Linked DNA regions of Homo sapiens: region 1 is linked to region 2. A link means that fine-mapping ties the variant in region 2 to the expression of a gene that starts in the linked region. Tissue or cell type: whole blood. Region 2 holds a variant in brackets; the other region holds the start of a gene. All regions are shown on one strand. Distances are from middle to middle. Region 1 holds the start of SDC2 (syndecan 2). Region 2 overlaps SDC2 (syndecan 2).

Region 1 (15,990 bases), 75 kb before region 2:
CAATTATCTCCAAACTACAGATGAAGAAACGGGTTTAAATTTAGTGGCCTGCTCAGGTGTCAAGGCCTTTAAGAACACTGTAAGAGTGGAACTGGGATTCAAACCCCAGTCTGTATATTTCCAAAGGCTGAGGTTTTAACCACTACAGGGCACAGCCTACCCTAACAGCCGGTGTAAGAGCCTCTGTTAGGTATCCTTAATGTATTGGGTTACTTAACAACTCAGCCAGGCGTGGCTATCCTACCTGTTTCTCATTTCACTAGCTGAAAGAATTTAGTAACATTTTCACACCTGGACATTTGTGTGCCTTGACCTCTAGATCTTTTAGAAAAGTGTTCAGTGAGGCAATTCCTGGCATTAACTTGTAGGTGTTCCCAGTGCTAATACTATTTAATTCAGCAAAGAATCTACGTATTCTACTCTGCTTTTAGAGTTTTAAAGATACCAAATTCTACATGGAAAACACTTCCCCCAAGGTAATTCATAAGTAAAATTTTTCTTTAAAAGTTTGTGTTTTCTCCTGAAAATCTAAATAATGTTAGTAGTAGTTTATCTTCACTAAAACTGTTCTTAACTATACATGGCTCATAAAACACTAAATGGCAAGATTTCCATTCTATCCAGAGTGAAGCTAAGGTAGTCAAAGCTCTTTGCTTCATTTTCATCTCTGTCTTGGGCTGGCTTCATTTGTTTACCAAGAAGTAGTAATAAATTAATTACTAGTAAATTTAGCTCTTTAGCTAAAGAAAAATGAGGAATTTACCTTAAGGATACCATAGTATCTTGTATAACCTAAAGGAAGAAAGTTTATTTGGGTTTCAAAACAGGCTAGAAAAGGGACTGGAAAAAAAAAAAAAACCAAAATCCGGAAAACTACATTATTCTGGAGCCATATATCCTCTGTTGTTGCTTCTCTCTGTTCATCTGCTTCATTCTTTCCATTTTACATCAACCTTTTCTCTCTCACCACACAAGGACCCCTTAGCAATTCTGGATTACTCCCAGGTCAACAATGTACAATTTAGTTAGACTCTGAGTTCCTTGGCTCAAATAATCTGAAAGGTGAATCTGATTGGCCACTGGCCCACTAATAAATTGCCTCCCCCTGCTTCCAGCCCTGGTCTACATAATTGTGATCAAGGAGGTGTGGAATCATCTAAATGATGATATGTAACATGTAGGCCCCTTTCCAGGGCCTTGGAGAGGATGGATTTCTAAGAACAGTCAATGAGGTTAGAGCTAGTTACCATTAAAGTAATCACCTGCAGAGAGTAGTAATAAGAGTAGTCCCAGCTGGTCACGGTGGCAAGTACCTGTAGTCCCAGCTACTTGGGAGGCTGAGGAGGGAGGATCACTTGTATCCAGGAGTTTGAGGCTGCAGTGAGTTATGATCGTACTACTGCACTCCAGCCTGGGCCACAGAGTAAGACCCCCTTTCTAAAAAGAAAAAGAAAAAGAAAAAAAAGAGTAGGACTGTCCACCAACAGATGAAGAAAATGTGTGGTGCATATACACAATGGAATACCATTTAGCCTTATAAAAGAAGGCAGCGGGGCTCTTCCAGCTACGTGGAAGGATTGCTTGAGCCCAGAAGTTGGAGTTCAGCCTGGGCAACATAGCCAGACCCTGTCTCAAAAAAAGAAAAAAAAAAAGAAATTCTGTCATTTGTGATGACATAGGTGAACCTGGAGGACATTATGCTAAGCCAGGTATAGAATGGCAAATACCACGATTCCACTTATGTGTAATCTTAAAAAGTTGAATTCATGGTAAGTTCAAGAGATCTGTTGTATATCATAGTGACTATAGCTAACAATATATTGTATCCTCAAAAACTGCTGAGAAAAAAGATTTTAAGTGCTCTTACCACAAAAAATTTGTTTGTGAGGCAATGCATATGTTAATCAGATTGATTTAATCATTCCCCAATGTACACATTATTAATTAATTAATTATTTAATAGACAGGGTCTTGCTCTGTCACCCTGGCTGGAGTGCAGTGGTTCGATCATAGCTCACTGTAACCTTGAACTCCTAGGCTCAAGTGACCCTCTTACCTCAGCCACCCGAGTAGCTGGGACTACAGGTGTGTGTGCCACTGCTGCACCTGGCTACATATTTTTAAAGAGCATGCTGTACACCATAAATATATACAATTTTTATTTGTCAATTTAAAAAATAGTACCATTTTACATAAAATTAATCAAGGTTAGACTTTCCTGTTCAACTGGATATATACAAATGCAATGCAAAATAACTTGAAGATACCTCTGTGGTACCTTCCTGGATTCATACATCCAAATCTATAACATTCAAATATGGCTCTTTGGATATGTATTTTAGTCCATAAATAATGTTTTCTTTAAACTTTATCTGATTTTAGAATGAAATTCATCATGTACTTTAGTCACAGATTCATGACTTGAGAACAACTCTTAGTTTAAAAATGTATTAACTCTAACAAGGTTCAAGAAAATTCATGTGCCTACCCAGTGAGTACCTGAGTTGCAGCAGGTGATCCATACATATTTGTTGACTGAATGTCAAATTTTGCCAGCCTTTAAAGAACCATACCACACTGTTAGAAAAACTGACATGAAGGGCCAAGTGTGATGGCTCACACCTGTAATCTCAGACCCTTCGGAGGCCAAGGGGGAGGATCACTTGAGTCTAGGAGTTCGATGCCAGCCTGGGCAATATAGTGAGCCCTCGTCTCTAAAAAAAGAAAAAAAGAAAAAAAAGAAAAAGAAAAACAGAAGTAACTGTTTTATCTCCTGTCTTATTTTATGTATTATACACTTCCTTGATTTTCCTGTGTCCTCCTATCCAAAACTGTAACAATTTTGTTCAACATTAGCACCATATCATTTTATGAAACTCAAATCAGCCAACTTCTCTGGGAAGGGGTTGATGGAGGTGAATAAAGAGAACAGTGGAAAGTTTGAGGCTGAAAATAGACTTTTTTTTTTTTTTTTTGGAGACAGAGTCTCGCTCTGTTGCCCAGGCTGGAGTACGGTGGCATGATCTCGGCTCACTGCAACTTCTACCTCCCGGGTTCAAGCAATTCTCCTGCCTCAGCCTCCCAAGTAGCTGCGACTACAGGTGCCCGCCATCACACCTGGCTAATTTTTGTTGTGTTGTTCTTAGTAAAGACGGGGTTTCACCGTGTTGCCCAGGCTGGTCTTGAACTTCTGAGCTCAGGCAATCTGCCTGCCTCGGCCTCCCAAAGTGCTAGGATTACAGGTGTGAGCCACCGCGCCAGGCCTGAAAATAGATTTTTTTGGATTGCCTGTAGATTTTGGTCATGGCCTCAGCTCACTTGCCAGTATTAGCGATGGCTCATTAATGGTTGGCTGGATGGATATCCTATTCCTCTCAGCTTCTATCATCTTTCAAGTGAATTTCATAAGAGCCAATCCTACCAAATTGATTTCTAGCCTGGACTCCTGGTAACAGTCCAGGGGGTGCCAAGTGGAAGAACAACCGAGAACAACAGAATGGCATCTTTTTTTTCCGCTATCCCCTACTCTGACAACTCACCTCAGGACAGAACACCTGTTTATCCACGGTTGTAATGTGGTATCATTTGTTACCGTAGTGACAGAGTCCGATGTGTCAGTTTAGGTTAAAAACTGTCTTTAGTAGCTTTCATTTCTATTTTTTCACTTGTCTGGTTCTCTTTATTTTTTATTTGTTTTTACATGTTTGCATCTTAATCTCTATGTTGTTTATTTTTAATATTTTCTCCTGAGACTCTTGAAGTGTGGTAATTATTCTTTTAGCAATCAATGAAGCTATTTGGGAAGTGATTGGTTAAGCTGTGCCCCTCAAAGCATAGCCCTCAAAACCTGAGGACTTGAAGTATATTTGCAAAGAACCTTTGGTTCTAGTCACAAGCTATACTTAGTGAATTAGATATACTACACAAAATTCTGCCAAATTTTAGTCCCCATCAGTTTTTTAAACATTTCCAATTAGCAAAACACACAAACAGGCCTACATCGTTTGCGAATTTAGACAAATCCTGACTAATACCAGCGGACCTCCCCTGACTTCTGTCCCCATCCCCACTCAGCATGGGTGACCTCTTTGTAGCCAGCTCTTGTGTAAGTGCTTTTTATACTGTCAGATTATCCTTCTTGCCACAGCTGTTAATAAATCTGAACACAAGATCTTGAATATTTGTTTTCATCTCCTTAATATTGTGTCACTCAAAATGGTACCAATTCCCTTATTATATATACTCTCAATGGAGTATTTATCATCTTTAAAGAAACAAGTCACTGAGCATCTCATCAACACCAAGAGCCTTGGGGTGTGCCTTCAGGGCAGCAAACAGATAATATCCCTTCAACACGTGTATCCACTTATTCATTTTTTATCACTGTCTGCCCAAGCTGAATCAGAGAGCATTCACCACGCTTCTTGTTACATGGGTGCCCCAGTAAACAGCAATAACTGTGAGAACCAGCAAATCAGTGGAGTGCACTTCCTGTTTTACTGGAATTCCAATTTATTTGATGAATACTTAACTGTTGGGGACAATGGAGGTGTGGCCTTGCCTGAAGGCTGGCGAGTAGACGAGGCCTCTTATGAGGACAGAGCTGGTATTTTATGGCTCTTTGCATGTATTTTGCATTGCTGCTTTTCCTTTGGAGGCCTTTTTAAGAAGTCTCCCCATCTCATGAACCTCTTCAACCCACAGACTCCATCTTAAAAATAAGGGCACTAGGCTGGTGGCTCACGTGTCTAATCCCAGGACTTTGGGAGGCTGAGGCAGGCAGATCACTTGAGCCCAAGAGTTTGAGACCAGCCTGGGCAACAATGGAAAACCCTGTCTCTATAAAAAACACAAAAATTAGCTGGTGTGGTGGCCTGTGCCTGTAGTCCCAGCTACTTGGTAAGCTGAGGTGGGAGGACTGCTTGAGCCTGAGAGGTAGAGGCTACAGTGCAGGCCACTGCACTCCAGCCTGGGCAAGAATGAGACCCTGTCTCAAAAAAAAAAAAAAAAAAAAAAAAGGCTGTGGTTCATTCTTTCAAAAGCTAAGTGGAGCCCACATTGGCACAGATGCCAGCTACAGTGTCTGTGGAATCAGAAGCATCATCTGATGTTACAACTTCTGGCCTATTGCTCTTTTTCTTCTTTCTCCTTTGCCTACTCTTCTATTTCTCCATATTACCTTTTTGTTGGCCAATGCCTTAGACTTGCTCATGAGCATTTGTAGGTTTGGTAGCTGGCACACAAAACCAAAGGAATAAGTGTCTCCAAGTTTGAGTTGTAATTCTCCAGTTAAATTTCTTTCTTTGAGATTTATTACAGTAATAGGTTACTAAGACATTTAATTCTCACTGAGGGTATGACTGTATTTTATTCTAATACTGAGTTGAAAAATTACCATGGCCTCATATCTATATATCTACATTGGTGTATTTTAAAGGCTCACAACTCTTATACGGTATAAATTGAGCTTTAGAGCAAAATTTATTCAAGATAATATTTATCATGTGTCTTTATGTACCAGGAATGAGAATACAATGGTGAACAGACAGAAAAGTCTCTGGTTTCCTGTAGTGGGCATTCCAGGAGCAGAATGGCGTCATAATTCATTTACTCTATAAGTCAGAGAGAAAAATGATGGCACGAACTGCAAGGGATTTGTGTGTAAAATTTGTGACAGTAAGAAAAAGAAACTGGAAGGGAATACGCATTTGCCATGTTCTATAATATGCCACAGACATTGTAACAAAATATTTCATGTCAGCTACTTCCATTTAGGAAATACATGTTCATTATTTTCTTCAAACTAAGAATTACTTTATCCCTCTTTTCTTTGAAGTTATCTTAAATCTGTTATTATTCAGGGTCTCTATCCAACTTCTCATCAAATTACCCTATTTGTAGCTTCCAAACGTTAACACCTATCTGCTAAAATGGAGCCTATAAAAAGCCTTAGTGGCATAAACTGTGTGTGAGGGAGAAATGGTATTTAAGCCCTTAATGAAGTTAGGAGCTTTCAAACTGTTGCACTTTGGGTTTACAGGATCCTTCCTCCATGTCCCTTTTTTGGGGGTGCGGAAGGATTTGGGAGAATGGGAAACACTCTCACTATATATTTATTACATTAATTATCTTCTCTTTTAAAATGCAATTTTCATGAACTGGCGATTTATGAACACTTCACATTGCTTGAAAGCATCTTACACTTTTTTTTTCCCTCAACTCACAAAGCAGTTTCTTTCTACTGGTCGAATTCTCAAGGCAGAAAAGCTACATACGTCTCTCGTTTCTTCACTAATTGTTCTCTAGAAAAGGGAAAGTGAAGAAGGGAAAGAGAAAAGACAACGGGGAAGAAAAGAGCATAGAGGAGAGAGGAAAAGTGGGGAGAGAAAGGAAGAAAAGGACTGAGAAAACGCAGGAGCCCTGGCTTGCCGGTGAGCAGAGCCGGCGCAGCCACAGCGCGGAGCCGCGGCGCCCACTGGTCCTCGGAGCTGCCAATCGGCGTGTAATCCTGTAGGAATTTCTCCCGGGTTTATCTGGGAGTCACACTGCCGCCTCCTCTCCCCAGTCGCCCAGGGGAGCCCGGAGAAGCAGGCTCAGGAGGGAGGGAGCCAGAGGAAAAGAAGAGGAGGAGAAGGAGGAGGACCCGGGGAGGGAGGCGCGGCGCGGGAGGAGGAGGGGCGCAGCCGCGGAGCCAGTGGCCCCGCTTGGACGCGCTGCTCTCCAGATACCCCCGGAGCTCCAGCCGCGCGGATCGCGCGCTCCCGCCGCTCTGCCCCTAAACTTCTGCCGTAGCTCCCTTTCAAGCCAGCGAATTTATTCCTTAAAACCAGAAACTGAACCTCGGCACGGGAAAGGAGTCCGCGGAGGAGCAAAACCACAGCAGAGCAAGAAGAGCTTCAGAGAGCAGCCTTCCCGGAGCACCAACTCCGTGTCGGGAGTGCAGAAACCAACAAGTGAGAGGGCGCCGCGTTCCCGGGGCGCAGCTGCGGGCGGCGGGAGCAGGCGCAGGAGGAGGAAGCGAGCGCCCCCGAGCCCCGAGCCCGAGTCCCCGAGCCTGAGCCGCAATCGCTGCGGTACTCTGCTCCGGATTCGTGTGCGCGGGCTGCGCCGAGCGCTGGGCAGGAGGCTTCGTTTTGCCCTGGTTGCAAGCAGCGGCTGGGAGCAGCCGGTCCCTGGGGAATATGCGGCGCGCGTGGATCCTGCTCACCTTGGGCTTGGTGGCCTGCGTGTCGGCGGAGTCGGTGAGTGGGCCAGGCGGAGGATGCGCGCGCCGTTTAGGGTGTTTGAAGCTACGAGAGGAGCCCGCAGGGAATAGGGGAGCGCCACCTGGGGAACCCCCAGTCCCCAAGTATACACCGGAGATCCGCTGGGACAAATGCGCTCGTCCGGTCACCCTTTCCCCCTCTTCCCTTCCTCAGAAAAGCGCTGCTCGCTGGCGTTACCCCGCGGTCCGCGGGAATGGGGGCACCGAGAATTGCGGTTTGGTCTAGCCGCAGAGGCCCCTGAAGTCACTCCCAACTTCTTCGCCCTCGGCGGGTCTTGCTGCGTGGTCTGGGAAGGACGGAGGGGAAAGGGTGGCAGGAGGGGGGAGCCTGGGTCGGGCCCGCGAGGGAACGGCTCCACTCCGCGCGCTCCTCGAGACCAGGGATGACCTGGAAACTTCGGGGTCCCTTCCTCCGCACACCATCCCCCCCGCGCCAGCTTTCCTGTTTGACTGCATGCAAGTTCTGGGGAGATGGGGGCCAGATTTAAGAGACCCGCGAGTGTCCAGAGAGAAAAGTTTGCAAAAGTTCTTTTGTTTGATGCTCCCTGCGGCTAGGGCGAGGTAACCGACACTACGTGGAATCGCAGTAGGCGATCCCTCAAGGGGATACTGGGGGAGGCACGGAACGCGTCCGAAAATGCTGGGACGCCGGCCACTGGATTCCCAGTCCTGCGGCGACCCCCTCCTCGTTGAGGGGTGGAGGTTGCACCGCGGGGCGTCAGGGACGGGAGGACATTTTCATAGGAGTTACACGGGAGTGCCGCAAGCAGGGCGAGGCGGGGTACGTGTGACACGGCGCTCGGCTTCGGGTCGCCTGGCCGCTGGGGGACAGAGGCTTCCCTCCCGCCACGCTCGCCCTCTCTGGCCCTGGCGGGGCGCTTCTGGGGCCGGGAGGAGTCTCGTCTCCGGCGGAGCGCCTGCCGGCACCCAGCTTCCCTCCCCCGCCCTGGCGGTGGGAACTTGATTTCTCCTTTTGGTCGCGCTTCGGGGGCTGGAGCTTGTTTCCCCACGTCGCCCAATGAGCGCCCTCTAAAGGGAACTGCCTCCTTGGCCTCCTCTCGTCCGCAGCTGCCTCCACCTGGGCGCCAGGAGCTCTGTCGGGCCAGGTGGAAGCTTGAGCACCCCAGATTTCGTCTGCAGCCTCAGTGCCCTCTGGGGTCTCAGGGAGTGCGGCTGTTTCTGGCCCTTCTGGTTCCCCACGTCCTCTCCCTTTGCCATTTAATAACGTGTCAATTTCTAATTAATTGAATGGTCTTTTCAAAGACAAATTATATCATCTTAAGGTCTTTTAGGTAGTTTTATGAGTTTGAGTCTCCCTCCCCCCCTTTTTTGTGCTGAGGCTAATTTAGGACTGGGAAACCTCTTTGGCATCGAGCGGCAGATGGACATTTTTAATCAGTGTGGGAGCCTCTGTGTGTGCTAGCAGATCCCCATACGTTCTTTGTGGTTGGAGAGCATGTAGAATTGGAAACTGTACAGACTACATGAGTATTTTGGGTGCTCAGGTTGTAAAATAGAACTCCCAGCCTTATCAGTGTTTCCCTTTGGCAAATGATGGTTTAATCCGTTGGTATTAGTTATCTCCCAGCCAGTTAGGATGAACTTTGGCTCTTTGTACACCAAAAGGCAGCAGTTCTCTTGTTTATTTCAGATGAGCGTTGTTGCTCCTCTTGTTGCAAAACAGGGCAAAGGGACTTCATCTAATAAATTTCAAGAGCCTGCCTAAAAAACTGCACATGGTTAAGGAGGCCCTTTTTTTTTGCTGAGTCTTATTCATGGATTTGCTAGGAAATGTTACTGTTTTGGGATTCTGGAGAAAGAATGTTTCTGTCTTCTGCTCCTCTGGGTTTTTGCATAAATCTACCAGTGCTCCTTAAGGAAGTTTTTTGGCCGAACTATATACCTGTCCTCCCCGGTGACAGCTTTCCCCTGAACTGTGTATCTTTGGGGTTCTAATATTTCTCAATTTGAACCAGAACTGGATGCTTTCCGAGTGAACTGCTTCATTGTGATAGACACTGTTTTCAGTAATTGGAAAATCATCCAAAAAGGGTGATTAGATATTTATAAAATGTCAACTTAGAGACTAGCAGAGAATCTTTGTTAGGCAGTGAGTCAGTCTTTCTAAATAGAAGCTGTTTCAAGGCCCAGAATGGCTAACAGTCCATTTAAATTACTTTTCAGTCTCCGTTTGTTTCATGTATAGCAGCAAAAATATAAATGAAGTCAAAAGACTGAATTTAAAAAAAAATTAGCAATTACAGAATATTATTTCCAGGACTTTGCATTTTAATTTGAAAACTGCAACTGTTTCCTGGGATTTAGAAGTAGTGATTTGGGTTTAAAGTCTCCCTTTAAAGGAAGAAAGGAAAACTGCCTACAGTTAGTGAATTCTTAAGTTTTATACTTAGCTCTGGGGGTAAAAAAGAGGTTCTCAGGAACTAAGGCTCAAAACTGCCTATGAAAAGGAACTGGTAGCTGTTCCTTTATGGATCCTGGAGGCAGCTGGGAAAGCCTGTTCCTAGTGATCCATTCATACTTTCCACTGGCAGGTTAGGACTTTGGCTGCGGAGCACCAGGCAAGGGGAAAATCTGACTGAGTGTGGCAGTAGTGATATGCTGCTGGTTTTCTGTCCATTTTGTACATGACTGTTTATCTTTAGAAATAATATATTGCAGACTGCTATAAACACATAATTTGAACTGGAAATATGTTTAAGAAAAGGAAGTGTTTTGAACTAGAGGAATTTTATAAACATTCTTAGATGTCTGTAAATTAAAAGAAACTGTCAAGTCATTTGGGCCCATGCATTATCTCTCGGTGTATTATGAAAGGCAGGCTCTGGAAAGTTTGCATTAGAAGGGTAACTAAAATCGAAATCATGTAACTTTGCAGTTCTTTAGAAAATATAGTTTGGCTGTTTTATGAGTGAAACAAATTGCTTTTGCTAGGGAATTTTATAAAAACAAGGGCTCTTTCTCTCTTAGTTGGGTATTAGCAGAAGGAGGATGTCATTTAAGAAGGAAAGATCTTGAAAGATCAGGCTTGCAGAAAATGGATGTCTGAGAAGCAATTTGAGCATGCCCTTCAGCTTCTGCTTTTAGGACCTGATATGTCTAGTTTTGATGGTAACCACCCTTCGAGGGGTAGCCTACCCTGTGTAATATGATCACTTAAATGGCGCCTTGGATAATCATTAGTTTGGAAAGGATTTCAAAAGGTGAACTGGTTTGTTCCCTGGGTGGAACTAGTTTTCAAGTCTCCAAAAGCCCCCAGAGACCTGACTGGCCAGCTAGAGGTGGCTTGGAGTCTCCTTAGGTTGGCAAGGCCCCTGAAGCTGACCCAGTCACACAGAGCCCCACCAGCCCTGTCATTAAGGTTTATAGCAAGTCCAGTCAAGCCACTGTGCTGTTGGCATACCTGCTGGTGGGGATCCAGTTGTCCTGTGAGGAATGCCATCTGGGTTTAGATTCTCACTAGATTGTCCTTCTTCCATTGCCAAAAATCAAACTAAAAGATTTTGCCCATCCTTTTCTTCTTCCCAAGGCAGAAGGGTGCATTGCAGAATCTCCAAACCACTGAATTCTTTTCGTGGACTAGAGGCCAAAATAAAGTCTTAGAGAAAAGCCAGAAGTAATGAAGAAGAATCTTTGCTAAAACCAATCTACTCTTATTTAACTTTTTTAGTCAACTGTGACAGTACTATCATTTTCATTCTAATCATTTGGATTTAAATCTTGAAGAAGCCCTGGACTCATTCATCTTTGTTGGTTTCCACGTCCAGTCTGCCTCTAAGTCCAGCTGTGCATTCATTCTGCAGATATTTATTTCATACCTACTAGGTGCTTGAGGTAAAGCAGTGAGCAAACCAGGCAGATATCCCCCTGCCTTCTTGGAGCTTGCATTCTAGTGATCTTTCCGTTCATTTTTTCATGCCTTCAGTGGCCAGCGTGGAACTTCCTCAGGAGTGCCAACCGGCCCCAGAATGCCCTGGCCCATGGGAACCTGCACTTAAAGATGCAGCACCAACAGGTGTTTACCCAGCTCCTGACCTGAGCTCAGCACTGCAAAGAAGTCGGGGTTTGGAAATGTGGTCCCTTCCTGCAGCGCTAATCTTTTTTTTTTTTCCTCTTGAGATGGAGTCTCACTCTGTCACCCAGGCTGGAGTACAATGGCACTCTGCAACCACCACCTCACTGCAGCCACCTCACTGCAACCACCACCTCCCAGGTTCAAGCGATTCTCCTGCCTCAGCCTCCCGAGTAGCTGGGACTACAGGCACATGCCACTGCACCTGGCTAAATTTTGTATTTTTAGTAGGGATGGGGTTTCAACGTGTTGGCCAGGCTGGTCTCCAACTCCTGACCTCAGCTGATCCACCGCCTCGGCCACCCAAAGTGCTGGGATTATAGACGTGAGCCACTATGCCTGGCCATTGGTCTCTTCCTGCAGCACTAATCTTGATGGGACAGAAAATTTCAAATGAAGAGCTTTCCCTCTTTTTTTCTTCCTTGGGGGCATGCCAGCTTGTGCTTCTATGTCAGTAGCCTTGTAGTTGCCATTCCTGGCCCAGACACTTGCATGCAGTTTGGTTTGTCCTCCACCACTTTGATCATGTTGCCCATGGTCTAGACACCTCCGTGTCCTTGTTATCATGGCATATAGTCTGTATGCCTCTGCTGGATTTATAAGCGGCCCCATAATAGCCTTCCTTTCTGGTTACCCCCTTGATCACTTTCCACCACATCTCCCAGCCCTGGCCCATTGATATCACTATCATGAACACTCCCTGGACATTGCTACTTTTTCAGTGTTTCTCCTTTTAAATGCTATTGATTAAATGCAAGCTCCAAATACCTTTTCATGGCTGATCCAGCCCTGTTGTTTTTAATCCTTCTGTAAATAGCAAGGCATACTGATGATCAGAATCATTGAAAGTATGTGAAAATACAGATTTCAGGCCTCCTCTCAGACTTACACAATCAGAAACCTGAATGGGGGTGGGAGTGTGGGGGAAACTGTATTTTTATAAAGCGACTGAGATGATTCTAATGAATCAGACTAATTTGGGAATCGCTGGTCTAGATCACAGCATTACCCCTTAATTATGTGCTATTCTATGTTACTACTAGAGTTTTCAGCAGTAGCTGGGCTTAGAATACAAAGGGCTTGGGCTTGGGAGGTGGACAAGTCTGGGTTCAGATGCTGGTACCTTGCCACTTAATGTGTCAGAACTTGGACAGTATATTAAAGCTCTGAGTCACTTAAAAAAGTGTGTGTGTGTAAATTGGACCTAAGAATGCCTTTATAACATGACTGTTGTGAAGATGAAATGAAGGGAGCATATGAATGGTGCTTGAGGCACGGAAGATAGGACATTTTTTTTTCTTCCTTTCCTCTCTTGGCCTTTTTTTTTTTGGCAATGAAATGAATGAAATGAGGGAGCCATGTCAGATGTTCTTACCTCTCTGACATTCTAAATAGGTGAATTTTCTCTCCCATCAAGGTTAGTGCTATAGGAAGAAACCATGTTTCCAAATCTCCTACTCCTGTGCAGTGCTGAGCTGGGTAAACATCTGTTGACACTGCATGCTGAAGTGCAGATACCCGTGGGCCTGGACATTTTGGGGTTGGTTGGCACTCCTGAAGAAGTTTCACGCTGGCCACTGAAGGCATTATGGTTCAGGGTCAACTGAATACACCAGCCCCCAGTGGACCTGGGCTAGTTGTCCAGTTTTGATGCCTCTGCACTCAGTGTCATCAGCATTGCAGGGTTGGTGTCAAGAATAAAGAAGACATTGATGTAACGTCTTGACACATCAGCTGTGCACAGTCACACCTCCTCCTCTTCCCTGAGGCTGTGCTGAGATTCCAGCACATGGGAAGGAGAGAGTTAGAATTTAGTCTGTATCATGCGTTGGTATGCCGTTGGTCATTTAGAATGAGGTGGCAGGGGTAGTGAGTATATTTTGGGGATCTGGGGGCAGAAAAGGGATTATTTTTATTTTTTAAGTGTGGAAATGTGGCCTGGCGCGATATCTCATGCCTGTAATCCCAGCACTTTGGGAGGCCGAGGTGGGCCAATCACCTGAGGTCAGGAATTCGAGACCAGCCTGGCCAACATGGTGAAACCCCGTCTCTACTAAAAATATAAAAATTAGCCGGGCGTGGTGATGGGCACCTATAATCCCAGCTACTTGGGAGGCTGAGGCAGGAGAATTGCTTGAACACAGGAGACGGAGGTTGCAATGAGCCGAGATCATGCCATGGCACTGCAGCCTGGGCGACAGAGTGAGACTCCATCTCAAAAAAAAAAAAAAAAAAAAGAGTGGAAATGCATTAAATTTCTTCTTTTAGCCATTGGGCTTTAGGTCTTACTATTAAAAATCTCAACTGCATTTTGATAAGTCTGTTTCTAGGCAGCATTAGCTTTAGCAACAAGGATGGAGGGGTGAATGCCTCTGAATGGGAGAGGACACTGTTGAAATAGAATTGTGAATGTCTGTTTTTCTCAAGTATCTCAAAGAATTGGTAGGAGTGGGAGAAGAGAGAAGCCTTGAAATCTTTGGAGATTTTCCATTTGCATTTCACATCAGCAGAGTGAAGCCAATGAGTATGCAGCTGGTGGCGTGATAGCCAATGCATAGTCTTGGAAAAATGGAAAAATGTTATTAAAGACATGTTTTCACAGTTTTTTTCTCTACTATTCAGTCTATTTTGTGAAAAATGTCACAAAGACTCAGTAAGTATGCTCTCTACAAAGCATTTTGGTGTTTTTTTTTATGATTACACAGGTATATTAAATACAAGTAACCGTGATGTTTAAGGAGTGTGTGCAATTAATAGAATTTAGTCTCATGGTATAAGAATGACACACGGGACAAGATACGCAATTATTAAAGGAAAATTTTTTTTAAGGGAAAAGTTAAATACGTATTTCTTTTTTTTTTTTTTTTTTTTTTTTTTTTTGAGACAGAGTCTCACTCCGTCGCCCAGGCTGGAGTGCAGTGGCATAAATGAGGCTCACTGCAACCTCCTCCCCCCGTTCAAGTGAATCTCCTGCCTCAACCTCCCGAGTAGCTGGGATTACAGTGCACACCACCACGCCTGGCTATTCTTTTTTTGTATTTTTAGTAGAGACGGGATTTCACCATGTTGGCCAGGCTGGTCTTGAACTCTTGACCTCAACTGATCCGCCTGCCTCAGCCTCCCAAAGTGCTGGGATTGCAGACGTGAGCCACTGCAACCAGCTGAGTTAAGTATGTATTTATGTGTAATTTGTTATTAAATATAAATACAGTAGACTAAATATACAACATTTTAAGTCAAGGCAAAAGCAAGGTTTTATACACATGTAATTAACTGTCTTAATCCCTGTGAGACCTCAGTTTTCTCATCTCTAAAATGATGGAGTTGAACGAGAAAAACTCTCTCTCCTTAATATTTACTTTTTCTGCACTTTAGGGTGTGGTAGGAGAAATGTGAAGATTAACTTAATAAGTAATTATTAATCCCCTGTCAAATACTTCTAATTTTATTATTGAAACATGGAATTTATTCACCTTACAGAAAGGCAAGTAATTTCTAATAGCTCATGGTAACCTGTTACCTTGAACTGAGTGTTCATTGTTTACTAGGAGTGGTATACATTGTCCTGCGTATTCGTGATCTAATGTCTATTTGTATTAGTCTGTTCTCACTCTGCTAATAAAGACATACCCAAGACTAGGTAATTTATAAAGGAAAGATGTTTGATGGACTCACAGTTCCACATGGCTGGGGAGACCTCACAATCATGGTGGAAGGCAAAGGAGAAGCAAAGGCACGTCCTACATGGTGGCAGGCAAGAGAGCTTGTACAGGGGAACTCCCATTTATGAAACCACCAGATCTTGTGAGACTTACTACCACAAGAAAAGTATAGGGGAAACCGCCCCCATGTTTCAGTTATCTCCACCTGGCCCCGCCCTTGAAATATGGGGATTATTACAGTTCAAGGTGAGATTTGGGTGAACACACAGCCAAACCATATCACTAGTATTTTTTTATATATTTTCTGATACAAGCCAGTGTAACATAAAGAACAGCTGCGTGGTAAAAATAACTTTCATTCTAGATAGAAGACTACATGACTTGATATACTGGGGGTCTTTTTAAACTATAAATCTCATAAAGTGTTTTAGTCTCCTCATATGGTTTCTGGCCTGGATCTCCATTTCCAGAGTGGGGCTTTTAACTGGTGCCTTCCGTTTGGTCCCTCTCTAGAGCACTTGAGCCTGGTCTGAGTACTGTGCAGACCACAAGCAAGAATCTAAATGAGCAGACTATGGTAGTGTTGCCTGGGTTTGGATACACTTATTATGTAACCTTGGGCAAGTTTTTTAACCTTCTGGGCTCAGTTTTCTCATCTGTAAAACTGAATATCCTAAAATAAGTTTTTAGGATTATGTGAGACACAATAAGTAGGGACTTTTTAGCATAAGGGAATGTCCATGCGTTGTGTCACATGCTAGTTATAATTCCTGGCTTTCTGCTTCTCTGAAGAATAAGGGCTTGGCACACACATTAGTTGGGCTCATCTGATAAGCTCTAGCCCAGAGGGTGGCTCAGCATATGCATGCTAAGGCCTACTTTTTCATAACAGGGGCTTTCTTCTTGTCTTGGGGTAGACTAGTTCTACGCTGAGATATTGGGAATATGTTTGTAGTCAGCTTTTCTCTAAAAGT
Region 2 (15,990 bases):
TCTGCATTGGTGGATTAGTGAGTCCTTTCCTCATTTTCTCCTCTTGTGCAGGCTTCTTGTTCCTAATGCACTCATTCTAACTGATGAGATAATTACAGCAAAATTTTGTATAGCTACTAGAACCAGGAATTCCGTCGACACAATTAGAATTGGTAATCCTTACCTTCAAATCTTCATTCTAGTGAAACCTAAAATAAAATTAGCATTGCTTTCAAGCAGAGCTTTTGTGCTTAAATTGCCCCATTTCTGTTCCATATCTTAAGGCTGACCTCCATTCCAGATTTCCCATTTGGGGACTTGGATGGTTCTCCTGTGGAGCCAAGGTGAATTTAGTGACAGGTTAGTGACTCTGGTGGGGGACATGTTTGCAGTAGAGCTCCACTCTTTTTTTTTTCCTTTCCTGACAATATTTCCTAACTTTTCGCCTTCAGACTATCATTTTGACGCACATCACCCCTAATTTGTTTTCGTGGCTCTGTACTCCTTTCTCTCCAATTACTGTTCCATTGTTACAGCTACCTGAAAGACATTTTCCCTTGACACACGCTGTCCGTATCTCAGACACCTCAGCGAGGTGACTGTGTTGCCAAGTCTTGTCAAAGGTTCCAATTTTGAAACCTTATAAATCTCTCCCTTGCCTGTATTCAGCCTTGCTGGGATCAGCTGTCTTGACAGCCTTCCATCTGGCTTTCCTAGCCCTTCCTAGCCCACCATTCTAACGGCCTTACTTCCTGCCTCCAAAATTTTCAAGAGCTCCCAATTTTCAGGGAGAGTGCGGGCTTCCTAGGCTAGCACTCAGTGTCTTGAATTTCCTGGCTTTTACATAACTGTCATCTTTAATTCTAGCACATCCTCTCATGCTCTTTGCTACCTAACTAAGCTGAGTGCTCTCCCTTCCTTCCATTTCCTATAAATATCTTGTACTTTTCCACTTTTATGTCTTTGTTCTCAGACTTCTAAGCCAGTGGTCCTCAAACTTAGGAATGTATCAGACTCCACATGGAGGCCTTGTTATAGCAGGGAACACGGGGCCCAACTCCCAGAGTTTCTGATTCATTAGGTCTGGGGTGGGGCCTGAGAATTTGAGATGCTGCCGGCCCCAGGGACTGCACCTTGAGAACCACTCTTCTAAACAGTTCTCTAATTCTAATACGTTTTGGTTAAAAGAAACATCGAATTCATTGGAGGCCATTGGTTATTCAGATCTGTGCATTGGATTTTACATCCAACAGTGCTAAAATTGTGTTTTGAACATAAATGCATTTTGAGCTCCTGCTTGGTGCCAGCTGACAGGCCCTTTGTCCATAAAACTACTGATGAATTGAAGGTTATACTTCTGTTTCCTCTCTGCATGTTGGGTGAGGACACTTACATATTTAGCTGTGAGCCACTGGCGGCTACACTCTGTCATTACAGACCAACAGGCCCTACAGCCAGTCAGCTGCCAATTAACAAACTACAGGCTTGTATTCTGCAGGCAGTTTAGCCAAGGGATGCCAGCATCTCTGTTGTTCCTGCCGTTACCAGGCCTAGGCATTGTCTTGCAGCTTGGTAACTCCACCTTTCTAAAGACTCAGGTGTCCCCAGTTGTACTGGTAAAAGGTTTTGCATTTTAGTGTTATGGTTAAATTTGGGAATTAAAAAAATGTAGGAATCATTCCTTTGTCTCATTCACAGTGTAATTGTCAACCACCTGTATCATTAGTGTTGGCGGGGAAAGGAGGGGTGAGGAGTCACTGTGGCCATGGATACATGTCATCTGTCCAGGCCTATAGCCTATTAAAGGCACTTGATTTGAGTACTTTCAACTTTGCAGGGGGATGGGATGTCCAAGGGTGAATGTGATTTGAGTAGGGCATCTGGAACTTTTTAGAAGATAATCAGTACCTAATAGATTTTTTACCGCATAGATTTTTCACTTCTCATTGCACTTGCATTTTGCTGGTGTAGAATGCAGGCCTTGACCGTAGAGTTGTGTGGGTTGCACGTGGATTAGCCTCACACAGAGAGGTAAAGGGTCTCTAATTTAATGGACCTTTGTGAAGGATTCTAAAGTAAAAGTGTACAGAGTGCTTTCTGATTGGCGAATGTACCTATGATACGTTTTATTTGGGCGTATTTTCTTGTTTTCCTTACACACCTGTAGACTTCTGATATCTGACATGAAATAAAACTTTCCAAGAAAATACCTCAAGATTCCAGGTTTTTTCCTACAGTTCAGCTTACACGTGTTATCACATCCCATAGGTAAGTGATGAAGTCTGCCGTGCCAGTGCTTTGGGAAAGCACCCTGCCCACCGTTTTGGGAGTTGAACTTTGTGATTGTTTAGAATACCAGCTTTTAATTGTTTGTTGTTAAATTTTAGTCAATCTCTGTACATTCTTCACTTTGCTTCATAAACTTTGATAAGTTAGCAATGGGATATCCCTTTCTGCCTAGGTATATTTATTCTTTAAAAAATGTACATTGAGGAAGGGAAAGTAATTTTTAGGAAAATTACAGTGTGGTAAGCATACTGATCACTGAGACCATCCTAAATTTGATTTTTTTTTTTTTTTGTTGAGATGGGGAGTGTTGCTCTGTCGCCAGGCTGGAGTGCAGTGTACGATCTCGGCTCACTGCAACCTCCGCCTCCCGGGTTCAAGCAATTCCCCTGCCTCAGCCTCCCGAGTAGCTGGGACTACAGGCGTGCGCCACCACACCCAGCTAATTTTGTTTGTATTTTAGTAGAGACAGGGTTTCACCATGTTGGCCGGGATGGTCTCGATCTCCTGACCTCGTGATCTGCCCGCCTCAGCCTCCCAAAGTGCTGAGATTACAGGCGTGAGCCACCGCACCCAACCCCTAAATCTGATTTAATCTTTGATTCAGAAGATATCTCAGAGTCTTACAGGATCCATGTACATCTTCATTTTTTTTCCTCCATGTTGAAATGAATTTAGTTTGAGTTTTAACTTAATAGGGTTTTGGATAGAATAAATCTATATGTATATGTATTAGGATAGAGACATAATAGGAAGTGTGGTGTTGGGAGACAGAGAATTGAAAATCTGGGACCCTAGCAACAGTTGCTTCAATAACTATAGTACTGAATGTGTGGCCTTTATATCTGTGTCTCAGTTTTCCCCGACTCCAGTCATACCTGCATTACACATAGTTTGGGAAAGACTGCCTTCCCTCTGCAAAGTCCATCTGATTGGAAAGGCTGGGTAGATAACTGCAATAAAGAGATTGAATGTAACGGCGTTCCTCCTGGGGATGGGAGGTGAAGGATTCAGGGATAGGCAGTAGAGTGATCAAAGACCTGGAAGTTGTAGAATTCAGAGTTCTGCAGCCAGTTGACATAGCTGCCTTGTTACCCCACAGAAGATTCATATTGTTAGTGAAAAATATGCCACCGAGAAGACCTGGGCTTGAGTCTTGCTTCTTTCCTGCCCTGTACACCACGTACCAGCTGTGTGATCTTGGGGAGGACCTTAGATGAAGTCCTTTTCCCATCTGTAAAATGTTGGTGATGACCACCATCTGGTCTTCCTCACATGGGCACAGTGAGCACTCACTGGAATAGTGTTCTTCCTGTCATAGATGTAAAGCAGCAAACTGAAAGTTCTGGTGGTTTATCATGATTATTATACTTGTTGGCTGACTTTCTCATGGGCTTCTTAGATGTTTCTCTTAAAGGCAGAATTTTAATTTAAAAATGCATATTATGTAAGAATATTGTAGTTGACTTTGAGAATTCATGAACTGAAACACTTAAACTCTCTCAGGACCTCTAAATATTTCTTGACTATTTCAGAGCATTTGATTTGTCCTAATGCTATGGAGTTATAAAACCATTAATGGTATGATAGCTCTGGAAACAAACATTAATTCATTTGAATTCATTAGAATGATAAAGCATATTGTGCAGGGGTTTTCAGGCATTCAGTTCATAACTATCGAAATGTGGATCATAACAAATTTTGTTTGGGTGTGTTTTCATGTCTAAAGAGGATCTTATCATAACTCTCATACTTATTAGTTTTATGTGAAATACAACTAGCAAGCATATATACATAACAAAGGAAATTGCAGATTGTAGTTTCTCTGAGATTGATCTATTTTATTAAATTATTTTTATTAAATAATTTTTTATTTTATTTTTATATTTATTTTATTATTATTAATTTTTTGTTATAATTAAGTCATTCTGACCTTATAATTTGAGAAGCATGTGCCCTGTTTTCATGCTTTAGTTTTATTGTAAGCATCTATATTTAGGGAGGGGGGTGTGGTTATGTGTTTGTATATGTATGTTCAAGTATATCTTTATTTTTATTTTATTTTTGAGACAGAGTCACACTCTGTTGCCCAGGCTGGAGTGCATTGGCATGATCTCGGCTCGTTGCAACCTTTGCCTCTCAAGTTCAAGCGATTCTCTTTCCTCAGCCTCCCAGGTAGCTGGGATTACAGGCAGCAATCACCACGCCCGGCTAATTTTTGTATTTTTAGTAGAGATGGGGTTTCGCCATGTTGGCCAGGCTGGCCTGGAACTCCTCACCTCAAGTGATCCACCTGCCTCGGCTTCCCAAAGTGTTGGGATTACAGGCGTGAGCCACTGCGTCTGGCCTATATCTTTATTTTTTAAAGTTTACAAGGTGATAGTTTATTAGTAAGCGTTCATGCCAATAACAGTTTCTGTTCAAATGTAGTTAAAGCCTGACTTGAAGAATTCTGGTAGCGAAAGGGGAAGATTTCATACCTCTTAATTGCAATTTGAACAGAAAGTGGCATCTTATAGAAGTCTTAATTTTGGCATGTTTTGCCATTAAAAATTTTTTGAATTTCAATAGCTTTAGGGATACATGGTTTTTGGTTATATGAATTAATCGTGTGTGACGAAGTCTAGGATTTTAGTGCATTTGTCACCTGAATAGTGTCCATTGTACCCAATAGGTAGTTTTTCATCCCTCACCCTCTTCTCTTCCCCACTCTGAGTCTCCAGTGTCCACCTTACCATTCAGTATGCCTTTGCACACCCGTAGCTTAGCTCCCACTTAAGAGTAAGAACATGTGGTATTTGGTTTTTGATTTCTGAGTTACTTCATTAGAATAGTGGCCCCCAGTTCCATCCAAGTTGCTGCAAAAGACATTATTTTGCTCTTGTTCTGCCATTTTTAATCTGATTAAGAATCATAAGAATAATTTCGTTGTCATAGATATTTTTTTGCTAAACTTATTTTTATCATAAACACCTAATTATTCACCCATAGTCTGAGAGGTGGAGTGGAGTAACACCTCCGTTGAGCACCTCCGTTGAGCACAGTGCCAGGCACTCTTAGACAATGTGCAGGCAGTTATTATAACTCCTGTAGAATGCAATGGCTTTATCCTCACTTTTTGGAAGAGGAAACTCCTTCAAAGTGTTGCTGTCATTTGAACCCAGGTCTGCTGCACACTAGAAGGTCCGTATTTTCTCCCATGCTTTTGTATAGAGGCATAATTACTGGCTCTTTACCCTAGTGTATGGCAGTAAAACAAATTCTTGCGTTTTAGCATCAGTAAACTTAAAGGAGAATTGCCTCAATTTTCTTTGCCTTCTGTTACAAAGTTATAGGAGGGTTAAGCTAAGTACACCCTCTTTCTCCAGCAAAGCCTGCGGGTTTTCCTCTCTTCCTCAGAAGTTCTTAATTACTGTTGGCACATCTTGTGGTGAAAGAATATACCTTGTGGGGGTGGAAAATGAAATGTTATCTGTAATGAGTAAGATTGTTGGCCAACCCAAAGAGTTGGTTTAAACAAAAGTGGGGAACAGCTTGAATGAATCTGCTTTTCATAGGTACTTTTAACACATAACCATAACCTGTCAGACATACCAATCGACTGTCAGTTGCTTACATGATTGTTTTAGTGTCTGGTGGTGGAGCCCCAAAGCTCTGTCTGTATTTGCCAGACAGGCATGGTAGTTGGAGCGATGTATGTGGTCAAAGAGGTCCAAAAACTTGCCTAAGTGAAAACCTGGAAATGGAGCTCTTGGTTGGAGTTCTTGATTTATAGGTAGAAATAAATACCACAGAAACAGTGCCACCCTTTCTTGTATCTGCAGGTTTGGAGATTGTGAACTGATTAAATAACTGTAAATTGAGCATGGGTGTGCTGAACCCAGAGCTGGTTAGTGCAGCCCTGTCTAGGACATAATTCAGGCCACCATTTTAGAAGTATGGGTCTTTAGTCCTAAGAGAAACTAGGGGAAAAGTGAATTCATTCAATAAACATGTATTGCTTCATGGTAGGGAAACAGGTAAATGGGGAACTGTTCATCTATTTGGGATAGGCAGATGTAACCCAGAGTGCAATGCAGGTGAGCAGTGTGAAGAGTAAGGAAAAGTCACTGGGTGTCAGGGAAGGGAAATTACACATGGCTGCTGCTTGGATAAGAATGGTAGATAAGATAGAATGTAGAATGCTCACTGCTTCCTCCTCCTTGTTTTTGTGTTTGTTTTTGAAACAAGGTCTTGCTGTTTTCCCCAGGCTAGAGTACAGTGGCACAATTATGGCTCACTGCAGCCTTGAACTCCTAGGCTCAAGTGATCCTCCTCTCAGCCTCCCGAGTAGCTAGGACTGCAGGTGCACACCAACACGTCCGGATAATTTTTAAAATGTTTTGTAGAGACAGGGTCTCACTACGTTGCTCAGGCTGGTGTTGAACTCCCGGCCTCGAGCCATCCTTCCACCTTGGCCTTCCAAAGTGTTGGGATTACAGGCATGAGCCACCACTCTCAGCCTCTTCCTTTTTCTTATACTCTCAGCCTAGATATCCTTTCCTCCATGAAATGCCTTCCCTGACTTTCACCCCAGTTCTAGGTTAGGTTCTCTTACTGGGCCAGTGTAGAGTACAGTACACCACACTTAGCAGAGTATCTACCTCCTGGATTACCACAGCTCTTATCTCTCTCCTACCTGACTCTAAGCTCCTGTAAGAGCAAGAGCCTTATAGAGACAGTCCCCAGTACATAGTAGGTACTTAAATATTTGCTAAATGAACTAAAATGAAGCTGTAAAAGTTGGAGTCCAATTGTGGAGAGCCTTGTAATAATACTAGATGATATTTATTGAGTGCTTACTATGTTTTAGGCACTGTAAAGGTACGTGGCATATATTAACTCATTTAATTTTTCAGTAACCTATAAAGTAGGTACCATTGTTAATCCATTTTCTAGTTGAAGAACCTGAGGCATGGGAAGTTGGGTGTCTTCTCAAAGGTCGTTCACTTTGCTCCCTGCTTCTGGCTCCTCCTGTACTGCTGGGAAATTTAGAGTGGCTCCTGGAGGCGGTGGGGACTGTTAGTGCTATAAGGGGCCCGGAGGTGTGAGCACATGTGCTCTCTGGGAAAGGAGTCCTGACATTGTATGTAGATGGACTACAGGAAGGGGAGTCGCTTGAAGCAGTCCAGAGTCACCTCTGAAATGGCAATGCAAAATATATTCGTGTGATTTGTTGATCTAACACGCAGGATGCTAAGTGCTAGGCATTGTTGAAAGTGCCTTAAATGTTAACTGATTTAATGCTTTTGGCAGCTGCTTGAGGTAGGCACTATCACTATCCTCTCCATTTTATAGATGATGAGCCTGAGGTGCAGAGAGATCCCGCAGCTGGTAAGTGGCAGAGCCAGGCAAGTCTGGTGCCAGGGTTTCAGCGACTATCCCAAGCTCTGCTTAGTCTTCCTGTACAAAGGGAACGATAACTAGTAGTCTCCAGTGATGTTTTTGTTCCAGATAGTACAGGATCAAAGTGATATTTTGGAGACAGATCCTTCCATTTTCAAAAGCATCTGCCTTAAAGACATTTGTCTAGAAATATTTATATGATTGTATCACACTTAATATGTGCTTGGCTTAGAGCAGGCAAAAACAAAAAACAAAAAACCCAAAGACACAGGTCCTGCCCTTGGGGAACTCATACTCTGCTAAGGGGAGATAGAGAAGTATGTAGACTTACAAAGAAAAAAATAATTTCGGCTGAGAAAGGCAAATGAAGAAAATAAAACAAGCCAATGAAAGAGACCTGTGCATTCCACTGTGATAGCCACGAGGTGCATGTGTCCATTGAGTACTTGAAACATGGTCAGTCAAAATTGAGAAATGCTCTAAGGGTGAAGTACACACTGGAATTCAAACTTAGTATGAAAAAAATATATAAAATATCTCAATAATTTTTACATTGATTATATTTTAAGTGTTCATACGTTGGGTTAAATAGAGCATGTTATTAAAATGAATGCTAAGTGAAATAAGCTAGGCATAAAAGGACACTTTTATTGCACTTATGAGGTAACTGGAATAGTCAAGTTCATGGAGGCAGAAATTAGAACAGTGGTTACCGGGGGAAGGGAGA[A/G]TAGGGAGTTACTGTTTAATGGGTAGAGTTTCAGTTTGGGATGATGAAAGGTCTAGAGATGGATGTGGTAATGGTTGCACAACGGTGTGACGATACTGAATGCCGCTGAACTATACACTTGAAACTAGTTCAAATGGCAAATTTTAGGTATATTTTACTACAACTTTAAAAAGCCAAAAAATATGTGTCACACTTTTAAAAAATGTGACTACTAGAAAATTTTAAATTGCACACGTGGCTTGCGTCATACTTCTGTTGGAGTGTGCTGGGTAGAGAGTAATGGGTAAGATGGTCAGGAAAGGCCTCTTTGGAGAGGGTCACATTTGTGTCCTATGAAATGAGAGGGAACTGACCACACAAAAGGCTTGAGGGAAGCATTTCAGGCAGAGGCAGAGCGGCTGCAAAGGCCCTGGAGTGGGGAAAGTGTGTATGCTTAGGGAGGTGGGATGAAGTTAGGATGGAAAGGGGCAGGTCCCCGATCACCGGGGTCTTATGGGCTTGAATACCACTGCTCTGCATAAAACTTGAAAATAGAAACAAAGCAATAAAAAACTCAAATTTCCATACAGATTAAACCATGCGAAATTGCTGGTATTCTGACCTATTTATATGATTCAGCCTAATCTTGTGTTTGTGGTTCTGGGGTTTGATTCTTTCCCTAGTGATGTACTTGTTTGGCTAGCAGAGAAGGCACTGCCTTGCTTTCTAATTATTTGCTAATTGGTGGGTACCCTAAAGACAGCACCCCCTCTTGCTGGCTTACATACCACTTTGCCTGACAACAAATTTGTGTTGAAACGGAAGGAAACCCAGCTGCTCACAAACTAAAACTGTCACAAGTAATAAAAAATCCTGAAGACAGTACCTTGAACATTTTCTATTTCATAAACTTTGTCTTTGTCAGCTTGGTGGCTTTTGGAACCCAGAGGGAGCAATAATAGTATCATTAGCGCCTTTGGATCCTGGCGCTGTGAAGTCACTGGGAGCATTTATTATTATTGCACAGGTAGACTTTTCTTTCTGGAAAGGTCTTGGCTCAGGACAAGTAAATTGAAGGGTTGGCTTTCTCAGTAGGGAAGGGTTGTTAGGAAGGTAAATTGGGGTTTGTTTATCCTTCTGTTAAAGGCCATCAGTGCTGGCTCAAGCAGTCTCGTGGAGGCTGCTGCCACCCTGTTTTTTTTCCCAAGTCCACCTTGGTGGCCTCATTGTGTGTTACTACTGCTTTTCCTGGAGCAGGGGGTCTGGGACAATGAGAGGCAACCCTACAGGAGGTGCTGCAGAATGAATTGTTTTCTTAGTGGTTTTTGACTCCAGAACCCCTGGTGGAAAATGTTTGTTCATATTAAAGGAGAAGATGGTTAATACCTAAAATCTTTCATCTTATGGAAAGTTTTTTTGGGCTTTGAAACATCTCTGGCCACCTGCTGAGGACCAGTGAGTCTGGCAAGTGGTAATGCCCACTGCCTGTGCACTGGTCTTTTGTGGAGGAGTTCTGTGCCACATTTGAACTCCCCAGTCAAATGGTTCTAGTGGTGTCTCAGGTGGTATGAAGCAGAGAGGTGCCTGCATTCGGTTCTCCAGGCTGGCCCAAGTTTAAAAGTTGACTGGGTACTTTGTGCTCCCTTGGGATGGCTAGATATTTCCTCATAACCTAGGTGCTGTGTAAGCTAATTTGTTAAAAAAAACAACAAAGGCCCCATGTTATGTAATTATTGATATCTGAACCACAAACCAGAAATCTGTGCCCAGAAACCATCCCACAATTTCTAGATTTCCACCCCTGCACATATCGTGGTCCATTTCTATAGGATCACTGTTGGTGTCATCTTTGTTTATTTACTGTCCAATTTTCAACTGCTATAAGTCATTAACTACATTAGTTGAATACTTTCTTACCCCAAGGAATTCCTTATTGCAGTAGGTTTATATGAAGGTGGGGTTAGCTTTAGACTTAGCTGCAGAGTCTTCATTTATTTTTCAGTCCTAATCAGCTTTATTTGTTTATTTTGTTTTGTTCATGTCAGGATTGGTCAGATTGTTGTGACCACCAGCTTAGTTATGACACGGACCAGGAAAACTGTGTGACCTCCCCAGAGCTGGCTTGAGCTACAGGAATAAGCACTTTCTTAATGTGGGGCCTTGCCTGCCTGAAAGATCAGATGCATCTGCATAAATATAAATAATTACTTGTATTCTTGTTTTTTGTTTTGTTGTTTACAGTTTACATGAACTATTTCACGTTTTTTCTCTTTAATCTTCATGTGAAATTTGGGAGATGGGCACAATTATTGTCTCATTTTATAGACAGAAAAACTCAACCTCAAAGTTTTAGTCCAGGTGTCTGACTTCAGGATGGATGCTCTTCGCAGACCTCCCAACAACAATGTTGCCTGACCTTCTGGCAAGTTTCCAAGAGTGCCAGGACCCCAAATTAGAAACCTGGGTGCTGTGCTTACACTTCATGTGTGGGTGATGAAGGGGAAACCATGGGATTGCTAAGGCTCAGGTTCCACCGTTGCAAAATGGGGCTAATACCTGCGGCGTTGGATGCTGGGAGGATTTTGAGGTCTTATCCATGTAAAGTGATAACAGCACCTGACACACAATTGCTCTACGAGGACAGCAGCGACTATTGTCATTTAAAGAAATAAATCATCATATCCTCTCACTTACCCTTCATTCAATAAGTTGGCAAGACCTGTAGATTTTACTTACTTTAATACCATTGACTCTGCCCTGGCTTTCTAATCCTTCTGGTTTGGCACTTCTTACACAATTCCCGCCATAATTGGATGGATCACACTGCCTCCAGTCAAGCCCCTCTAATCTGTCATCTGCACTACATCCAGCCTGATCTTTCCAAACACAGTTTTGACCTTCTCCTTGAACATCCCTCATTTGCTTACAGAAGAAATATAAATCTCCTAGTTTTTCACCAAAGATTCTTTATAATCTGACCCTCTTCTTAGTCTTATTTCACCTATCCCGAACACACACCCTACCCTTTATCACACAGAACTAAAACTCCTCTCTTTTCTCATCCTGTCTTGGTGCCCTAAATGCCCGCATTCCGTGTGCCTCATTTGACCCTATTCTCCCCCTGCCCTCTGCACCCCCTCCCCTCCACACCCCCTCCCCTCTGCATAGCTAGCACCAACTCACCTTCAGCTTTGGGATCTTAGCACCGTGCACACACCCTGCACGGTGCTCAGTGAATAAATGAATTAACTCTTGGTGTAAGTGGATACAGTAGCCAGCATCTTTAGCCTAGGGGGTCTCGCAAGTCTCTAGCCTTTCTAAGGGGTTGGCAAGGCTGGACACAGACTAGATCTTCATGGGGAAACCCTGGGATGGCAGCAGAGCCACCTGAAGACCTGGAGTGTGCACCTGGGATCTGAGGGGAAGAGAAAGAAGTGAGATCACAGTCACCAAAACATCTGCTTTATCAGCAGCAAAAAAGCCTACCTGTGGTTGATCTGAATTCAAATATATGCCAGCAGCAGCTGTCTCATCAGAAACTTATCTAGAGCTGTCATTTGGCTATTTAGAATTTAAACCACAATTGCTTCCTAAATATTCTCTGCAGAAGTAACTGCCCTTCCCCACCAAGCAACAACCAGGCAAGATCAGTTATCTGTGGTTACCAGGTACAAAATCTCCATTAGCTGAAATAACAGCCAGGCCTGCTATCTGTGTGGTCTGCAGGACCTTGTTCTCTGTGGTAGGAATTACACCTGTTCACAGTCATTTGACTGCTTTCTACTGAAGGTGTTAAAGTGCTAGGCTTGTCTTACTGTTGTTCTGTGAAAAAGACATTTAATGCCTCCTATCTTTATTTTATGTTTTATGTCTTTGGAAAAATGGAAGAACTATGGAAAATGTATTGCGTTACCTGTAGGTTCTAGACCAGTGGTCCCCAACCTGCTTGGCACTAGGGACTGGCTTTGTGAAAGACAGTTTTTCCACTGACCGAGGGCAGGGGTGGGGGATGGTTTCGGGATGATTCAAGCGCAGTACATTTATCATTAGATTCTCACAAGGAGCGTGCAACCTAGATCCCTCACATGTGCAGTTCACAATAGGGTTCGTGCTCCTATGAGAATCTAATGCCGCCACTGATCTGACAGGAGGCGGAGCTCAGGTGGTAATGCTCACTGGCGGCTCACCTCTGCTGTGCAGCCTGGTTCCTAACAGGCCACGGATCGGTATTGGTCTGTGGCCTGGGGGTTGGGAACCCCTGTTCTAGACAACCAGAAATCTAAGCCTTTCTCCTTCATGAAAACTGTAGAGATGCAGAGCCTTCTAAATATGTTTCCTGAGTGAGCACTGGCATCTCTTTGACTTCAGTGCTCAGATACACAGGTAACGAATGAAAAAACCTGAAAGAATTGTGAGATCCACCTGGTAGGTGTCTTGTAAATACCTGTAATTGCAAACCTGCGGGGTGGTGGGGGTAGGGTGGGGTAGGGTGGGGTGGTGGCGGGGAGAGTTTCTGAGATTCAGGTTACTCTCTTTATGTTTGTTTTAGTCAACTTTTCACTGAAGTATAACACAATCAGAAAAGTACACAGATCATAAGTGTACAGTTTGAATTTTCAAGTCATCCTTTTAATATATTAATATACAATACATGAATAATTTATGTATTCATGCCACGAACAATTTCTTTCTTTAATTAAATTAAGGGGTTGGTGAGGATGGCAGTAGGAGCCAAGTTCTGAGTTCTGTTCTGTTGACATAACTGTTGAATCACTTCCCCCCACTCACTTGTTCAAGGAGGCAAGGTTTTGTTTCCTGGGGGTAATATCTAAGCCATTCACAGCCTGAAATGTTTACCTCTAATTTTGTTTCTTTAGCTATCTGAATACGTGAATTCCATTAAAACCACACACATAGAAAAATGATTTCTGTTCTGCATGTCAGATTTTTTGTTTTCCCAATGAAAGTGCACCAAAGAGTTTGCAAGTAGCTCTGATAAGGAAGTTCCTTACTGTGACTGGATTTGTTTTCTGCCCTTATAAAGATGCCTCTCTTACCTGCTTTTCTGTCTTCCCCCTTACCGTTGTCAAAGAAACCTTTTCCCTTTAGGGCCCTAGCTTATCTGTCAAGTTCATAGCTGTCTTTTCTCCTAGAATATTATGTGGTTACCACCCTCCCCGATCCCCACACACAAATACATCATGCAGTCTTTTGTGGGCCCAATTTATTTAAGTCAGCTAACTACAGGCTAGTATAATTTTTAGCAGATTTCACCTCATTCTTGTACCTGGTATGAAGGCGGTACTTTCTGGTCCCATTAGTGATTAATACCAGCTCTGGTGTCACCTGAAGTTTTTTCAGCTGGAGTTACCCTACTGCCTTCCAACTTTTAAATTATGAATTTGCAGATACACAGAGAACTTGAAAGCATAGGACAATATTCTCCACATAAGTTCAATAATTGGTAGTTTGTTTTTGTTTTGTTTTGTTTTTTTTTACCAGATTTGCTTTATTATTCTCTTTTTTTTTTTTTTTTTTTTTGAGACGGAGTCTCGCTCTGTCGCCCAGGCTGGAGTGCAGTGGCGGGACCTCGGCTCACTGCAAGCTCCGCCTCCCGGATTCATGCCATTCTCCTGCCTCAGCCTCCCAAGTAGCTGGGACTACAGGCGCCCGCCACTACGCCCGGCTAATTTTTTGTATTTTTAGTAGAGACGGGGTTTCACCGTTTTAGCCGGGATGGTCTCGATCTCCTGACCTCGTGATCCGCCCGCCTCGGCCTCCCAAAGTGTTGGGATTACAGGCGTGAGCCACCGCGCCCGGCCTATTCTCTTTATATACAGCTTTTTTTTGTTGTTTGGTTGTACCATTGACAGTAAATTTCAGTGATCAGGATACTTGACCCCTGAGGATTCAGCATTTATCCCCTGGGAAAAAGGAGAAAACACAATCTCACCTAAGAAAGTTAATGGTGAATACATTTCTAATATTCAACCCATATTTACATTTCTCAGTTGTCCCAAGAATGTATTGAGATGTAGTAGACTTTTAATCCTCTGCAGTTTATTAATACATCAGAGAAATCCCAGTGATTGTGCTGGCTAGGTGGATGGAACGGTGGTGCAACTCATTATTTAATACTTGTACACAAATGAGCTATTTTCCTAGAGAAGACTGAACTTTCCATATCTGTTGCTGGCATCTTGCTTTCTTGCTTGATGGAACAGTGTAGGCAAGAATGAATGAATGAGAATGAATGTATAATACCCATTACAACTGTAAATGGGCTACTTATAACTTCCAGAAGTCCAGGAATGTGTCGTTTATTTGCTGAAGCTAATTGAGTCTGATACCAGAGAGATGAGGCAGCTAGGTACATACATCATTAACAAACAAGAACCATCTCTTGTGTGATTCATCTAAAACCTGGTTTCACTGTAGAAGGGATGGTTGGTCAGGGCAGAATATATGGACAGGCCTCAGGAGTTCTCCAGGTATTTGTCTTTTTGATCATGAATAGACTATTTTTTCGGTAGAGTCTTAGATTTATCAAATAATTGAGCAGATAGAACATTGTGTTCCATATACCCCCCATGCATTCCCCCATTTCACCTCTTACTGTATACTAACATATCTTGTATTAGTGTGGCACATTTATTGGGATTAATGAACCAACATTGATACATTATTACTAGCTGTAGTCCATAGTTTACATTAAGGTTTACACCTTGTATTATACACTTACATGAGTTTTGACAAATGCATAATGTCGTGTATCTACTATTATATTATCATACAGAATAATTTCACTGCCCTAAAAATACCCTGTGCTCCACCTATTTGCCCACCCCCTCTTCCCCTGAACCCCTGGCAACTGCTCATCTTTGTATTGTCTCTGTAGTTATGCCTTTCCAACATGTTGTGTATTTGGAATCATACAGTATGGAGCCTCTTCAGATTGGCTCCTTTCACTTAGCGATGTGCCTTTTAAGTTCCTTCATGTCTTTTTGATGGCTTGATAGCTCATATCTTTTTATCGCCAATAATATTCCATTGTGTGGCTGTACTCTAGTTTGTCTATCCATGCATGAAGCTTACTGTTTTACACAAATGATAGGACATTTCAGCACATAGCAGTTGTTTGATAAATAGTCATTAAATGACCTAGTTAGATGGACTGCTTAATTTTTCTGCCAGATATGTAGTGCCAAGGGAGAGTTGTGATGGAAAAGGCAATTATGTTGTTAGGCACTGACTTCTGTTAATGTACAGTTAATGTTTAAGTGGCTTAGCCCAGCAAAGGTAGGTGGCTTTGATGTGTCCAGGCTTCCAACAGCAGTTTCTTAAATTCTCTTTAGAGCTGCACTGTCCAGTATGGTAGCCACTAGAAAAGTCTGGAAAAATAGCCACATGTGTCTATTTGAACTTAAATTGATTGAAAAGTAAATAAGATGAAAAATTCAGTACCTTGGTTGTACTAGCCACATATCAGCGACTCAATAGCCATATGTGGCTATTTGCTGTTATTTCGGACAGTGCAGATGTAGAACATTTCCATCATCACAGATTTTATTAGACAGCCCTAATGCAAATAAAAGCATTCAGAGAGAAGGATGGGATTGAAATTAGTTGACCAG

The links. PIP is the estimated chance that this variant, and not a neighbour inherited with it, causes the effect.
Region 1: it holds the start of SDC2, and the variant in region 2 is fine-mapped to the expression of SDC2 in whole blood (INTERVAL, PIP above 0.99).

What each region holds. Positions count from the first base shown.
Region 1 is chr8:96,487,091-96,503,080 of GRCh38, forward strand. It overlaps SDC2 (syndecan 2), which reads left to right and starts at 6,723. Exons shown (of 5, transcript NM_002998.4): 1 at 6,723-7,241. The coding sequence starts at 7,182.
Region 2 is chr8:96,562,541-96,578,530 of GRCh38, forward strand. All of the region lies in intron 1 of SDC2 (syndecan 2), which reads left to right. Among named protein-coding and RNA genes, the nearest start is that of CPQ, 75 kb to the right of the region's middle. The variant A/G (reference allele first, on the strand shown) is at 8,378.